Linked DNA regions of Homo sapiens: region 2 is linked to region 1. A link means that fine-mapping ties the variant in region 1 to the expression of a gene that starts in the linked region. Tissue or cell type: whole blood. Region 1 holds a variant in brackets; the other region holds the start of a gene. All regions are shown on one strand. Distances are between the middles of the regions.

Region 1 (8,194 bases):
GTTCATGAGGCAGAAGAGAGAGTGGGATGCAGGAGAAACTGGCCACAGGAGGAAGGCTTGGAATGAGAAATTAGACGGGCGCTTTAGGAAGGGGCCAGTGTGGTCTGGGTTCTCCAGAACCCAATACTACACCTTGGAAATCTCTCTTTTTTTTTTTTTTTTTTTTTTGAGACAGGGTTTCACTCTGTCGCTCAGTCTGGAGTGCAGTGGCGCGATCTTGGTCTCACTGCAACCTCCACCTCCCGGGTTCAAGCAATTCTCCCACCTCGGCCTCCCAACTAGCTGGAACTATAGGCGCACACCACCATGCCTGGCTAATTTTTGTATTTTCAGTAGAGACGGGGTTTCACCATGTTGGCCAAGCTGGTCTTGAACTTCTGACCTCAAGTAATCCGCCCGCCTCGGCCTCCCAAAGTGCTAGGATTACAGACGTGAACCACCACACCCGGCCTGTACCACGTCTTTGAAATCATTTTTAAGTAGCCCCAGTACTGGAAATGGAGGCAAAACATTTGAAGTAGGGTGTGTGTTTTGAGGGAAAAGGTAGGAAATAATAAGAGGCTAAGTGATGTGGCTATGACGTGACCTCGTATCTTCAATTGTTTTCAGCCCATATTCATGAACCTAGTTATATACCAGATATTATCTTAGGCACCAGGGATATGATGATAAGCAGACATGATCCCTGCCTTCCTGGAGCTTACAGTCTACTAGGAACATACCTACTTTTCATTTTTCACATTTCTTTTTTTTTTCTTTTTTGAGACAGGTTCTCACTCTGCTGTCACCCAGGATGGGGTGCAGTGGCACAATCTTGGCTCACTGCAGCTTCACCTTCTTGGGCTCAAGCGATTCTCTGGCCTCAGCCTCCCAAGTAGCTGGGACTACAGGCCTGCGCCACCACACCCAGCTAATTTTTTATTTGTTTGTTTGGGTTTGTTATGTTTTGGTAGAGATAGGGTTGCACCATGTTGGCCAGGCTGCCCTCCAACTCCTGACCTCAAGTGATCCACCCGCCTCAGCCTCCCAAAGTGCTGGGATTACAGGTGTGAGCTACTACCCTTGACTCTACTCTCCTATTTATTTGGTCACCTCATCATTCTTTTTCCTTTCTCTGGCCTGTGTGTGCCTAGCTGTTAGCCTACCAACAGCTTGGCAAGACTGTTATCTCTGCTCATGGTTCAGGGTGTGGGGACAGGCGTCGGTGTGGAGCAGAATTGAGATCCTCTGTTTTCCAGTGTGTCCTGAGCCTTGGGGACCAGAGCAGTCCCCATCAGCCTTACCCCCATTTCCTGAGAGGAGGTTCTGTGTGGTGTCAGGAGGATGGGGTCCGGGGCAGGTCGACAGAGCCTTGAAGTTTGAATCTGCCACTGACTCTCCTGTGCCCTTGGTCAAGTCACCTGACCTCTCTCTACCTCTATGTACATATAGATAAAAATGAAGATGATTGTGGTAAGAGTCATGCTAAGCATTTCATTTACATGATCTCATATCACCATCATAACAATCCCATAGGGCTTGCCTATTTAATCACCATTTTATTTATTTATTTATTTATTTATTTTTATTTATTTATTTTTTTGACATAGAGTCTCACTGTGTCTCCCAGACAGGAGTGCAATGGCATGATCTCGGCTCACTGCAACCTCCGCCTCCCGGTTCAAGCGATTCTCCTGCCTTAGCTACCCAAGTAACTGAGATTACAGGCACCCGCCACCACACCCAGCTAAGTTTTGTATTTTTAGTAGAGATGGGGTTTCCCCATGTTGGCCAGGCTGGTCTTGAACTCCTGACCTCAGGTGATCCTCCTGCCTTGGCCTCCCAAAGTGCTGGAATTACAGGTGTGAGCCACTGCGCCTGGCCTAGTCACCATTTTAAAGATAACGAAATTAGGCCGGATGTGGTGGCTCACGCCTGTAATCCCAGAACTTTGGGAGGCCGAGGTGGGCAGATCACAAAGTCAGGAGTTCGAGACCAGCCTGGCCAATATGGGGAAACCCCGTCTCTACTAAAAATACAAAAATTAGCTGAGCAAGGTGGTGGGCGCCTGTAGTCCCAGCTACTCGGGAGGTTGAGGCAGGAGAATCGTTTGAACCTGGGAGGCAGAGGTTGCAGTTAGCCGAGATCATGCCACTGCACTCCAGCCTGGGCAACAAGAGCAAGTCCTCGTCTCAAAAAAATAAAATAAAATAAAATAAACCATAGAAATGGGCCAGGTATGGTGGCTCATGCCAGTAATACCAGCACTTTGGGAGGCTGAGGTGGGAAGATAATTTGAGCCCAGGAGTTGGAAACCAGCTTAGGCAACATGGAAAGACCCTGTCTCTGAAAAAAAATGATAATAAAACCAGAAATGGATCTGAGTTTAAAAGTCTGAATCCCATACAAGTTCCATTTTCCTACATAGGACAAGATTCTTTTACATAAAATTTCATGTCTGAAATACAGGCCTCCCTGGGAACAAGCACCACATAAAACTGCATTAGAGGCCGGGCGCGGTGGCTCACGCCTGTAATCCCAGCACTTTGGGAGGCCAAGGCGGGTGAATCATCTGAGGTCAGGAGTTCCTGACTAACCTGGGCAACATGGTGAAACCCCGTCTCTACTAAAAATACAAAAATCAGCCTGGTGCGGTGATGCGCACCTGTAGTCCCAGCTACTCAGGAGGCCGAGGCAGAAGAATTGCTTGAACCTGGGAGGCGGAGGTTGCAGTAAGCCGAGATCCCGCCGCTGCACTCCAACCTGGGTGACAGAGCGAGACTCCGCCTCGAAAAAAAAAAACAACTGCATTAGGTCATTAGGTGTTAGGTGTCCCTCTTGTAGATTCTTTACTGCTTTCTGTTCACCCACCATGAAACTTAAGCATACTGTATTGTAGTTACCTTCTTATTTCCTTGACTCCCATATTGGACTATAGCTTTCTTTTTTTTTTTTTTTTTTTTTTTTTGAGACGGAGTTTCACTCTTGTTGCCCAGGCTGGAGTGCAATGGTGCGATCTTGGCTCACCTCTGCCTCCCTGTTGTTCAAGCGATTCTCCTGCCTCAGCCTCCCGAGTAGCTGGGATTACAGGCATGTGCCACCACCCCAGGCTAATTTTGTATTTTTAGTAGAGACGGGGTTTCTCCATGTTGATCAGACTGGTCTCGAACTCCCGTCCTCAGGTGATCTACTCGCCTCAGCCTCCCAAAGTGCCGGGATTACAGGCAAGAACCACCACGCCCGGCCTGGACTATAGATTTCTTGACAAAGGTGGGAAATGTGTTTTCCCCATTGAATTCCCAGTGCCTAGCACATAGTAGCCACTGAAACATGCGTTGAAAAAACAAAGGTTTGGCTGGGCGCAGTGGCTCATGCCTGTAATCCCAGCACTTTGGGAAGCTGAGACAGGCAGATCACGAGGTCAGGAGTTCGAGACCAGCCTGGCCAACATGGTGAAACCCCGTCTCTACTAAAAATACAAAAATTAGCTGGGCATGGTGGCGCGCACCTGTAGTCCCAGCTACTCAGGAGGCTGAGGCAGGAGAATCACCTGAACCCGGGAGGCGGAGGTTGCGGTGAGCCGAGATTGTGCCACTGGACTCCAGCCTGGGTGACAGAGCCAGACTCCGTCTCAAACAAACAAACAAACAAACAAACAAAACAAAAAAAACAAAAAAAAAAACGAAAGGCAAGGCATTTCAGGATTTCTTCTAATAGGATCTCAGACTATTCTAGGGAGTTCTGATTTGTTTGGGATATCCC[A/T]GTTCTCCTCCTGGGTATCTTGGAATGTTGCACTAAGCCCAGAGCAGTTCCAGAGGAGAATGACAGGCAGAACTAGGTCCTCTAGCTCATTCTCCCCCGCTGAAAATCCTGCATGGCCCTGGACCTCTTTGGATTCTCAGGTGGTAGGCAAATGCCTTAGCACTTGCTGTTCCTTCTACCCCTGAGGCTGCTTGGGTTTTTGTTTGTATATTTATTTATTTATTAGGGACAAGGTCTTGCTCTGTCAAGGAGTGCAGGCTGGAGTGTAGTGGCGTGATCACGACTCACTGCAGCCTTGAACTCTGGGGCTCAATCAATCCTCCTACCTCAGCTTCCCAAGTGGCTGGAACCATAGGCGTGTACCACTACACCTGGCTAGTTTATTTTATTTTTTCAATTTTTTGTAGAGACAGAGTCTCCCTGCATTGCCCAGGAAGATATCAAACTCCTGAGCTCAAGCAATCCTCCCCCTTCAGCCTCCCAAAGCATTGAGATTGTAGGTGTGAGCTACTGTGCCCAGCCCTGCCTGCGTTTTTAGATGTTAGCAAGGAAAGCAAGGGATAAGTGAGCCATTTGCTAGCCAACCAGAGTGCCTTGCCAGCCCTGATCCAGGCGTTTTTCAAAGTCAACTCACTGGAGAAAGAAGGCAAAGGAGAGGGCCCTTGGTGGGCTCTGGCTCTCTCCCCAGCTTTAACCAGAGCAGCTCTGCTGTGATCTGTGTATGTATTGGGATTCTACTGCTGGGATGGGGACAGGAGCTCCTTCTCTTGAAACAGACAGCTGATTGTCTCTCCTCCCTGGCCTTCAGGCTGTGGGCACTGCACAGCATCATGGGCTTAAAGGAGGCCATCCAGATGTGCTATTTATGCAGTCATTGGGGAAATGGTCAAAAAGCAAACTGAAGAGGGCTGTCTAGTCACTGGAACCAAGCCACAGCCTGAGGCTCAAAAAAAATTTGGAAAGTTCCTGACAAGGAGATGGCAGCAGGTCCAGAGGAAAGTCTGCACAGATACCAAGCAAGGGGAACACACAGGGTACAGCTCAGAGTCAAAATGCTGAGTGTCTACTTGTCAGAGAGACGTTGATATCACATACATGTGTAATAGGAGCCATCTAAAGGTAAGACAGAGACAGACAAGGGAGTCTGAGATCTGAGACAAAGGAGGTCTTGGACTCTGCTCTGCCTGGATTTCTGGTGGGCTGAATGAAATCTGGTGGGTGGGTTGGAGTGGGCTTAGGTGTGGCTAGAGGCTATGTCTCAGGACTGACTTTGCCCTTGACTTAAAGGACCAGACACTGAGGACCCAGGTCCTCAAAGCTCGTCAAATTTTAAGGGTGAAAGGGATATCAGAATCACCCAAGCCTTATCACTACCTGAATCCTCCTAATAACACAGTCACAAAGTGGACGCTTGCCCCTGCTCAGCCACTCCCTGTGAGTGGCCATAGTTGGCAGCAAGGAGCCAGACGCCACAACAAGACTATGAGCAGACTTAACGCTCCTCTCAAGCAGATGCCTTGTTGTCCTACAAAGATTGGCTACTGCTGCCTTACGCCTAATGACCTTTGGAATTGGAAAATTCTTCTCCCCAAGAAATGTATGTATCAAGCTATAATGCACCCAGATTCACCTTGTGCAGCTTTCATTTCAATTTTGTCTCTTCCTCTTATTTTCTTTGCAAATGGCTTCTATGTGTAACGACTTTCATAGCTTATCCCAGTTCCTACCCAGAAGTGATGGTAAATTGCCAAGTTCTCTGAAAAACTCATGGAAGACTACCATGTACAAAATCTGGGGAGACAGGAGTTTAAGACTAGCCCTGGCAACATAGTGAGACCTCATATCTACCAAAAATAAAAAATAAAAAAAATTAGCTGGCCATGGGTAGTCCCAGCTACTCTGGTGGTTAAGGTGGAAGGATCACTTGAGGCTGGGAGTTTGAGGCTGCAATGAGCCATGGTCATGCCACTGCATTACAGCCTGGGCAACAGAGCAAGACCCTATCTCAAAACAAAAAAAAAATCTGAGGGGAGACATCACCTAAGAAGGAGGCTAGAGCCCCATTGAGGTAGTTAGATGCTCACCAGTTCTTTCAGCAAATTCCTCTGCCCCTCCTGCACCCCCTCATCCTACCTGAAAGGGGAAGGCTCATTTCCTCTTTTTTCAAATTGTTAGGTACCTGGAATTGCTTGCCCTCTCTTGAATCCCACTCTAGAGGGGTTAAGGAAGGAAGAGGAGGGAAAGAACCTCATGGTTCTCCTTACCTGGTTGATCAGGGAACATTCTGCCAAGCAATGAAGATGCTAAAACCCCAGGGGTGATCCAGCAATTCCATTCCTAGGTATATACCCAAAGAATTGGAAGCAGGTGTTCAAAAAAAATTATACCCAATAGTCATAATACACTATTTGCAATAGCCAAAAGGTAGAACAACCCAAATGTCCACCAACTAATGAATGGATAAACAAAATATAGTGTATCCATACAATAGAATACTATTCAGCCATGAAAAGGAATGAAGTTCTGACACATGCTACAATGTGGATGAACCTTGGAAACATGCCAAGTAAAAGAAGCTAGACACACAAAGCGACATATTCTATCATTCCATTTACATGAAATATCCAGAATAGGGAACCCCATAGAGAAAGCACATCAGTAGTTGCCAGGGCTTGGGCGGTGGCAGTGGAAGGTGAATGACTGTTAGTGGATATGGAGTTTCCTTTTGGGTTGATGAAAATGTTCTGGGACTAGACAGTGGTGATGGTGGCACAAGTGTGAACCCACCAGATTCCACTGTACGGAGCACTTTAAAGTGGCTAAAATGGTTAATTGTATGGGATGTGAATTTATCGTAGTCTGTTTGGGCTGCTATAACAAAATACCATAAACTGGGTAGCTTTTAAACAACAGAAATTTATTTCTCATAGTACTGAAGGTGGGAAGTCCAAGATCAAGGTGGTGTTGTCTGGTGAGGACCCACTTCCTCACTGACAGAGCCTTATTGCTGTGTCCTCACATAGTCGAAAGGGTGAAAGTATCTCTCTCACACTGGGGTCTCTCTGTTGCCCAGGCTGGAGTGCAGTGGCGAAATCACTGCTCACCACAGCCTCAACCTCCTGGGCTCAAGTGATCCTCCTGCCTCAATCTCCTGAGTAGCTGGGACTACAGGTATGCACCACTACGCTCAGCTACTTTTTGTACTTTTTGTAGAGACGGGGTTTCACCATGTTGTCCAGGCTAGTCTCGAACTCCTGGGCTCAAGCAGTCCACCTGCCTAAGTCCTGGGATTACAGGCATGAGCCTTGGTTCTTTTTTATATGGGCACTAATCCCATTCCTAATTACCTTCCAGAGGCCCTATCTCTTAATACTATCCACCTTGGGGATTAGCATTTCAACACATGAATTTGCGGGGAAGGACACATTCAGACCATAGCAGAAAGGAAAGGTGAATCCAGAACACCCCTCTGGGCTTTGTTTCACCATCTGTAACATGCGGATAATAATGCCTCCCATTCCCCACGCCCCCAGGGTTGGCATGAGTAATACAGCAAGCAATTGTGTTATATAAAATGTCTAGCATACAATATGCACTCGAAATAAATGTCAATTGCTTTTTTTCCTTTAAAAGTGTCTAAAGCTATTTGCCTGATTCTCTGTCTCTCTCTCTCTCTCTTTTTTGAGACAGGGTCTGGTTCTGTAACCCAGGCTGGAGTGCACCACTCACTGCTCACTGCAACCTCTGCCTCCCAGGCTCAAGCGATCTTCCCACCTCCCAGGCTCAAGCGATCTTCCCACCTCAGCCTCCTGAGTAGCTGGGACTATAGGCATGCGCCATCATGCCCAGCTAATTTTTTTTTTTTTTTTTTTGGTACAGACAGGGCCTCACTATGTTGCCCAAGCTGGTCTGGAACTCCTGGACTCAGGTGATCCTCCTGCCTTGGCCTCCCAAAGTTCTGGGATTACAGGCGTGAGCCTCTGCGCCCAACCTATTTTCTTTATTTCTTACGACTGTAGTTTGTGGCTCTAGTCAGACAACCTGTCCTCACATGAGGGCTTCACCCACTCCTCACTGCACAGGGCAGGCTGTTCCACCATCTGGGATGTCCCACCTCCTCTGTTACAGGCCACTGTGGTCTTTGGGCCACTGTCACAGAGTCACCTGAGAGCTGATTCTGTGATGTTCACCCACTGAATCAGACTCTCTGAGAGTAGTTGGGTGAAAAGGTCTAAGGGTCTGCATTTACATTTTTATTTTTAAATTATTACTCTGTATTTTATTTATTTAGTGAGACTGAGTCCCACTCTACTCTGTACTTTAATTGATATAAATACTAACATTTTTACTAAGTGCTCCAGGTGATGATCATGCATATTAAAGTTGGAGAGCACTTTAATTTATGTTTTTACCATCTATTCCAGGAAGTCTGCCCAGATTTCTCCCTTGCTCC
Region 2 (8,171 bases), 26 kb before region 1:
GACCAACAGTCATTTTGAGGGTAGAGAACCACTGTCCTACTCACATTCCCAAAACAGGGACAGGGTGCCAGTCCATGTATGAATCCCACATGGTCCCTACATAGTTTTTAATTTTTAATTTTTTTTTTTTTTAATTTTTTTGAGATAGAGTCTTGCTCTTGTCGCCCAGGCTGGAGTGCAGTGGTGGGATCTCAGCTCACTGCAACCTCCACCTCCCAGGTTCAAGTGATTCTCCTGTCTTAGCCTCCCAAGTAGCTGGGATTACAGACGCCTGCCACCATGCCCGGCTAATTTTTGTATTTATAGTAGAGTCGGGGTTTCACCATGTTGGCCAGCCTGGTCTCAAACTCCTGACCTCAGGTGAGCCACCGTGCTTCGCCCTTACACAGTTTTTGAATGAACTACTGGAAAACTGAAGGCTCGCTAATGACACATTCACTTCATCTCTAGCATGTAGTTACTGAGCAGTCATTTGAGCTCTAAATCCCACGCACTGGGGAATTAAGTAGGAAAAAATGATAACTAAAATTGTTAATATCTTTCTAAAAGCTACTTACTAGGGATTATACATTCTACTTTTTTAATTATCAGGGTTCCTAGTGCAACACCATGCTGATGGCAAATATTAAGTAAATGGTAAATGCTTATGGAATGAATAAGGAGCATTACTAGACCAGTTCAGTGTACCACAATGAACTGGAAAAGCAGCAAGCAGGACTCGACAGACATGAAAACAAAAGAATCTGGTTAACTCAGCCCCCAGTGAGATGCTACTCACTTGCCACAGTTCTGCCCCCTCAAACACTTTCTGCCTGAGTATTGGATGTCAGTAGTTGTACCAACACTGGCAACTATCATCCAGAAATGGTAAGAGAATGAATATGAAGTCATTTCAGAAAGTTAAAATACACAAGGGCTGAGTTTCTTCTGATGAGGTCATACTCACAGGAATGTTGCCAGCAGTAGCCCCAGCTCCAAATCTGGCACCTGCATCATACCCTCCTTCCACCAGCACTGTGGAGCCAGGTGGATAGATGGGACCGACTGGATAATAAGCCATGGGGATTGTGGAACCTAAAGGCCCAACAGCCACAGACTGGGCCATGGGAAGATACAGAGAGGCTCCAGGAAATGCGGCTGACATGGTGGGGACTGTGGCAGCCCCTGGGTGCACAAAGCTCGGACGATAGAGCTAGAAGAGGCAGAAGAGAAGGCAAAATGTTACTTTATGACATTCCTATTTGAGATCTCTTTAATGAGCTAATTCTTAATTCTCCTTATGCAGGTTATACTTTTTGTAAGATTATACAAGTTGCCTTTCCACTGGCCTTCAATATTCTCCTGGATCACTTTCTGCTATAGCTAATGTTGGGCTCACAGAACGCAAATTCATCTTCTGCACCTTAGCCTGTGCCAAATAACACAAAATCATCAAATAATGCACTTTCAACTCCGACAAAAATTGCCAAATTATATAGTGTTTTAGATTATTCATGTTAGCATTTGTGAAGAGTAAATATGTGAAGTCAGATTTAGCTAAGGACTAAAGGACCACCCTAAGAGTATTCCCAGCTAGTTCAAATCTGGCAAACTGGAAGCACCTCTGAGTAGGCAGGTGGAGCATCGGTATAGGGTGGAGCCTGAGGAAGATGCAAGGTCTGAGGGTATACTGGATTCCCAGGAGGCTGCACAGGGTAGGTTGGCTGTGTTGGATATTGACCTGAAAGACAAGAAAAAAATGAAGGTTGCCTACTACACAGAGCTACCAAAATGAGGCAGGTCATATCGGGTAGCTAACTTAGTGGGAGCAAGCAGAAGGGGATTTGCAAATAGTCTGCCCCAGAGGGCCTGATTCCTGGAACTAAGAAAATATGCATTGTCTTTGCACCCTTAAAATGGAAGGTGCTGGATTCTAACGAGACAAGAAAGGCACTGCTCACTGCTCCTACTAACATACCGAAGTAAGGGGTTAAGTCTACCTGGGCCCAAGTTCCCTCCGGAATGCAGGACAGGTCTGGGGTTCTGGCCTGCTGCTGTTCTGGCTTATCAAGGGTGCCTCTGCTCTAGGTAGTCTCCACAGCCTGTCTACAACCAGCCCAGACTTCGTGGGTAACAGCAGTTCTGATTTTCCTTACAGATTACTATTCAAGGTCGACTTCCAAACAAAGGGTGTGAATGATGGAAGTGAACCGTGAGACTGGGAAAAGGGTGCAGGGCTGAGGGGTGAGGAGGAATATCCTCACTGGAAAAGCGGGGGATCAGGTTTGGTTTTTTGTTTGTTCTGAGACGGAGTCTCGCTCTTTTGCCCAGGCTGGAGTGCAGTGGCGCGATCTCGGCTCACTGCAACCTCCGTCTCCTGGGTTCAAGCAATTCTCCTACCCCAGCCTCCCGAGTAGCTGGGATTACAGGCGCCCGCCACCACGCCCAGCTGATTTTTGTATTTTTTAATAGAGACGGGGTTTCACCACGTTGGCCAGGCTGGTCTCGAACTCTTGACCTCAGGTGATCCGCCCGCCTCGACCTCCCAAACTGCTGGGATTACAGGCGTGAGCAACCTCGCTCGGCCTTTTTTTTTTTTTTTTTTCTATTCCTTTTTTACCCCCTCAACCTATTCCTGCGTTATGGGAATCATGTTCCGACAGACACACTGGTACAACCACAGAAAAGGGGAGAAGTTCTGATCCCGTCAGCGAAGGGCGAGGGGGTGCGAAGGGAAGGAAAAGAGACCTCACAGGCCCCGGCCCACGAACCAACTCCAGCAATTCAGTAGTTAAGTTCGGCCCCGCTGGGGGTTCCGGAGCGCGGCGCCCCGCCTCCGCCGGCTCTCCATTGGCCTACGCGAATGCCTGCGCTAGCGCTCTATTTGCTCCTGCGGATGCCCATCATGTCAAGCCCCCCCACCACCCGAGCCCGCAGCTCCAAACTGCGCCACAGAGTTTACGGAGGAAAGGGCCTGGAGGCAGCAAGCTGCCGTAATTTGGGTATGACGAAGGCGTCAGGCGCAGCGCCCTGGACTGCAGCCGGCCAAGGAGCATGGCGCAGCCCACCCCAAACCTGGCGTTTGGTGACCCTGGGCTCCGAATCCGCTCGCTCTGGGCCAGCAGTACTCCCCCCGACGGCCTCTGCCACCCTCGGTCCTTGCCTTTGCTGTTCATGGTGGTTGCGGGTCCGGTTTGTCTCGGCGTCGCGGACGGTTATTTTTTTCGTCCTCTTCCTGTTCGGAGCTACTTCCGTGTCACATGATGGTCCGTCCGCCTAGCGTCACCCGACGCCCGAGTGGCGCTGCCGCCGGAAACTCCGCCCCTGCTCCGGGCCTCCAGTCGGCCGCGGGAGGGTCCGCGCGGTCCCGCCCACTCGCCTTGGCCCCACCCCCTGCTCGTTTCTGTCCTCCCCCCCCCTACCGGTGTCCCTCAGCTGGAGAAAAACCAAATGCAGGTATTGTCTGGAAACAGGATCTTTTCTCTGTTGGACGCTCGGATGCAGAACGATGCAAGCATTCCCCGGAACCTTTTTCCACCTACACGCATTCACTCAAGGTCACCTCACCTTGGCAACCTTCCACGAGGGGCTTAGATTTCTGCAAATTTGTCGCACTGCCTGAAATCGGCTCCCCACACCTTAGTTTATCATGCGTCCCTCCCCACCAAGCCCAACTTAAGCTTCAGCTCTGTTAAAATTTATTTTGCCACTCCAGCTCACATGTATCCTTTCCTGAATGAGACCTGCACTGGAATCTTCGCTGCCCTGTCTTCCCCAGGACAGTCGTTGCCTTTCTCACGTACAGGAAGGGGTTATGTTTTCCGTGCTGTACGCAACACCTGGCACTGAAACTGACATAACTGCACTACCCATGGAGTGTTTGTGGCCCTTTCCTTTTTTTAGCACCTGTTGCAGGTGACCTGTATGGTACCTCTATTTTTCTCTATGTATGGCTTCTCTTTCTAACCTAATTATCCTTAAGGGCAAAGATGGCATCCTTTAGGGCAGCGATTAAGTGTTTTCTTTTCTTTTTCTTTTTTTTTTGAGACGGAGTCTTGCTCGCTTGCCCAGGCTAGAGTGCAGTGGGGCGATCTCACCACAGCCTCCACCTCCCGGGTTCAGGCAATTCTCCTGCCTCAGCTTCCTGAGTAGCTGGGCCTACAGGCGTGCGCCACCATTCCTGGCTAATTTTTGTATTTTTAGTAGAGACGGGGTTTCACTATGTTGGCCAGGCTGGTTTTCTTTCTTTCTAAAAAAAGTTTTAATTTTTTCTTTTCTTTTTTTTTTTTTTTTTTTTTTTGAGATGGAGTCTTGCTCTGTCGCCCAGGCTGGAGTGCAGTGGCATGATCTCGGTTCACTGCAACCTCCGCCTCCTGGGTTCAAGCAATTCTCCTGCCTCAGCCTCCCGAATAGCTGGGATTACAGGTGCCCGCCACCACGACCGGCAAATTTTGTATTTTTTAGTAGAGACGGGGTTTCACCATGTTGGCCAGGCTGGTCTCGAACTCCTGACCTCAGGTGATCCACCTGCCTCGGCCTCCCAAGGTTCTGGGATTACAGGCATAAGCCACTGCGCCGAGCCTTATTTTTATTTATTTATTTATTTATTTATTTATTTATTTATTTATTTATTTATTTTTGAGACAGAGGCTTGGTCTGTCGCCAGGCTGGAGTGCAGTGGCGCAATCTCAGCTCACTGCAACCTCCGCCTCCAGGGTTCTAAGCGATTCTCCTGCCTCAGCCTCCCGACTAGCTGGGATTACAGGCACGTGCTATTCATTTTTTAATACAGAGATGGGGTCTCCCTGTGTTGGCCAGGCTGGTCTTGAATTTCCAGCCTCAAGCGATCTTGCCACCTCCATTGTCCAATGATTAAAGGGTTAACTCTTAGGACCCAGGAACTCTCCTGGGCCTACCTCCTGCTCATGTAAACTGCCCTCAGATTGGTCAGGCCTACTTTACAGGTTGTTGGGTATTTTGCTTGTCACAGTGGGACCTGGGCATTGGGAAAACCAGGGCAGAGCCAAATGAGATTACTAACAAAAATGAAAGAGTTGCAGGCCAGTGCTTTCTCTGGCAGGTGGAATTAAGAAGTAAATGGTGGCTGGGTGCAACAGCTCACACCTGTAATCCCAACACTTTGGGCAGCCTAGGCAGGAGGATCGCTTGAGCCAGGAGTTCAGAACCAGCCTAGGCAGCATAGTGAGACTTCATCTCTACAAAAAAAAGTAGTAGTAATTAGCTACTTTCTTGAACAGGATCAAACTTTGGCATTTTCTTCATTCTCGTAGATTCCCCAATGAGATGAAGATGTTTATTTGGTCATTTATCAAACATTCTTTCTTACATTAATTTAACAAATATTTTTTGAGCACCTATTATGTGCCAGGCCCTGTGACAGGCACTAGGGAAATAATAATGAAGAGACAGGCATAGTCCATACTCTCATGGAATTTATGGTCTACCTAATGGGAGAGACAGAAAAGTGAACACATAATATGATTAGTGCTGACATAAAGACAGCATGGAGTGTGAGGAGAACACATAGGTGAGGCACCTACTCTATTCTGATGTAGTCAGGGAAGGTTTCCTGATGCAAGTGATGTCTGAGATGAAATCTGAAGGGTGAGAGCAGGTTAAGCAAGTGAAGAGGGTTCCTGGAAGAGGGAACTGCTTATGCAAAGGCCTAGAGGTGAGAAGGCTTATAGAGGGGGAGGGCATGAAAGAGTTCAGTGTAGCCAGAGCATACTGGTAAGGGGACTGATAAAAGATGACCCTGAAGATCCGGGTGCGGTGGCTCATGCCTGTAATCCCAGCACTTTGGGAGGCCAAGGCGGGCAAATGACTTGAGGTCAGGAGTTCGAGACCAGCCTGGCCAACATGGGGAAACCTCGTCTCTACTAAAAACACAAAAATTAGCTGGGCATGGTGGTGCGTGCCTGTAATCCCAGCTACTTGGGAGGCTGAGGCAGGAGAATTGCATGAACCTGGGAGGCGGAGGTTGCAGTGAGCCGCGATCGTGCCATTGCACTCCAGCCTGGGTGACAGAGCAAGATTCTGTCTCAAAAAAAAAAAAAAAAAAATTGACGCTGAAGAACTGTGAGCCAGACCTTGCAGGGACGCCTTAGAGCCCATGTAAGATCCCACATGAAGATACTGGATTCTATGTTAAGGGCACTAGTTAGCCACTGAAGAATGTTAAGCAGGAAAGTGATATGATCTTGTTTTTGTTTGATTGATTGATTGATTGGGACAGGGTCTTGCTCTGTCACCCAAGCTGGAGTGCAGTGGTGCAGTCACAGCTCACGGCAACGTTGAACTCCTGGTCTCAGTTCATCCTCTCACCTCAGCCTCCCGAGTAGCTGGGACAGTGGGTGCTTGCCACCATGCCTGGCTAATTTTAAATTTTTTATAGAGACAGAGTCTCACTTTGTTGCCTAGAGTAGTCTAGAACTCCTGGCCTCAAGCAATCCTCCTGCCTCGGCCTCCCAAACTTGGGATTACAGGCGTGATCCACTGCTCCTGGCTTGTGTTTTTCTTTTAGAAAAATGCTTCTGGGCCAGGCACAGTGGCTCATGCCTGCATTCCCAACAATTTGGGAGTCCAAGGCAGGAGGATTCTTTGAGCCCAAGAGTTCAAGACCAGCCTGTGCAACGTGGTGAAACCCCATCTCGGCAAGAAATTTCTAAAAAAGTATCCAGGCATAGAGGCACGCACCTGTGATCCCAGCTACTCGAGGGGTTGAGATAGGAGGACTGCTTGAGCCCGGGAGGTCGAGGCTGCAGTGAGTCGTGGTCACACCACTGTACTCTGCCAGCCTCGGTGATAGAGGCTATCTCAAAAAAATAAAGAAAAGAAAAGGAAAAATCCCTCTGGTTGCTAAAGAATATAGAATAGGTTAAAGAAAGGGCAAGAGTGGACGTATGTCTGAGATACCATTTAGAATCAAATTTAGTCATTTAGGTGTGATGATGGCAGACTGGCCTAGGGAAGAGGCAGTACAGTAGAGAGAAATGGGGGGATTCCAGAAATATCCAGGAAGCAGAAACAACTGGACTAGTTCCAGGACTAATGTCAGGACAAAATTTCTACAAAGTCAAAACTCCATATAGTCAAATGACAAATTGGAAAAATATATTTGTAATTTACATCACAAAGAGCTAATCTTCCTGCATGTAAAGAACTCTTAGACATCAGTAAGAATATGATCAACCATTAGAAAAAAATGGCAAATGACATTTACAGACAGACAGTTCACAGAAAAGGAAAAACAAATGACTCCCTAACACATGAAATGATGTTCAGCCTGGGTCGTAATCAGAAGGCAGATTAAACCCCACCGATATCATTATCAGATTGGCGAAAATCCAAACATTTGCTAACATTATTTGCAGGGCTGTGGATAAGCAGGCATTCTAATTTGTTGGTGATGGGGGTGAAAATTGGTACAAATCCTATAAGGTTAATTTGGCAATATCCATCAAACTTGCAAACATACCATTCCCACTAATGGGAGTGATTCTACAGATATATTTGCACTCACGAGAAACGTATGTATAAGGCTATTCATTGCAGCTTTTCTGTAACAGCAAAAGATTAGAAATAACCCATATTTCTATCAATAGGAAACAGAAAAAATAAATCTTGATACATCCATACAATAAAATACTATGTGGCTGCAACAGAGAATGAGAAAGTACTCCAAGGTGTTCTTTAAATAAAAAAGGGAAAGATTCAAAACCATATACTTAGTGTGATACATTTTATTTATTTTATTTTTTATTTTATTTTGAGACAGAGTTGCACTCTTGTCACGCAGGCTGGAATGCAGTGGCGTGATCTCGGTTCACTGCAACCTCTGCCTCCCAGGTTCAAGTAATTCTTGTGCCTGAGCCTCCCAAGTAGCTGGGATTACAGGTGTGCACCACCATGCCTGGCTAGTTTTTGTATTTCCAGTACAGGCGGGGTTTTGCCATGTTGGCCAGGCTGGTCTCGAACTCCTGGCCTCGAGAGATCCACCCGCCTCGCCCTCCCAAAGTGCTGGGATTACAGGCGTGAGCCACCGCACCTGGCCAATATGATACTTTTTATGTCAAAGAGCAGGGAAACCAAGAATATTCATCAGAATTTGAGTAAAGAAATTCTGGAAGGATACACAAAATACCTATAAAAGTGGTTACATAAGGGGGAGA

The links. PIP is the estimated chance that this variant, and not a neighbour inherited with it, causes the effect.
Region 2: it holds the start of DAZAP2, and the variant in region 1 is fine-mapped to the expression of DAZAP2 in whole blood (INTERVAL, PIP 0.98).

What each region holds. Positions count from the first base shown.
Region 1 is chr12:51,207,530-51,215,723 of GRCh38, reverse strand. The region is part of intron 1 of POU6F1 (POU class 6 homeobox 1); the gene reads left to right. Among named protein-coding and RNA genes, the nearest start is that of POU6F1, 6.4 kb to the left of the region's middle. The variant A/T (reference allele first, on the strand shown) is at 3,742.
Region 2 is chr12:51,233,892-51,242,062 of GRCh38, reverse strand. It overlaps DAZAP2 (DAZ associated protein 2), which reads right to left and starts at 3,237. Exons shown (of 4, transcript NM_014764.4): 1 at 3,143-3,237; 2 at 1,602-1,720; 3 at 947-1,192. The coding sequence starts at 3,155. RefSeq lists enhancers at 1,638-2,274, 2,991-3,240, 3,164-3,458, 3,550-4,187 and a silencer at 3,331-3,440.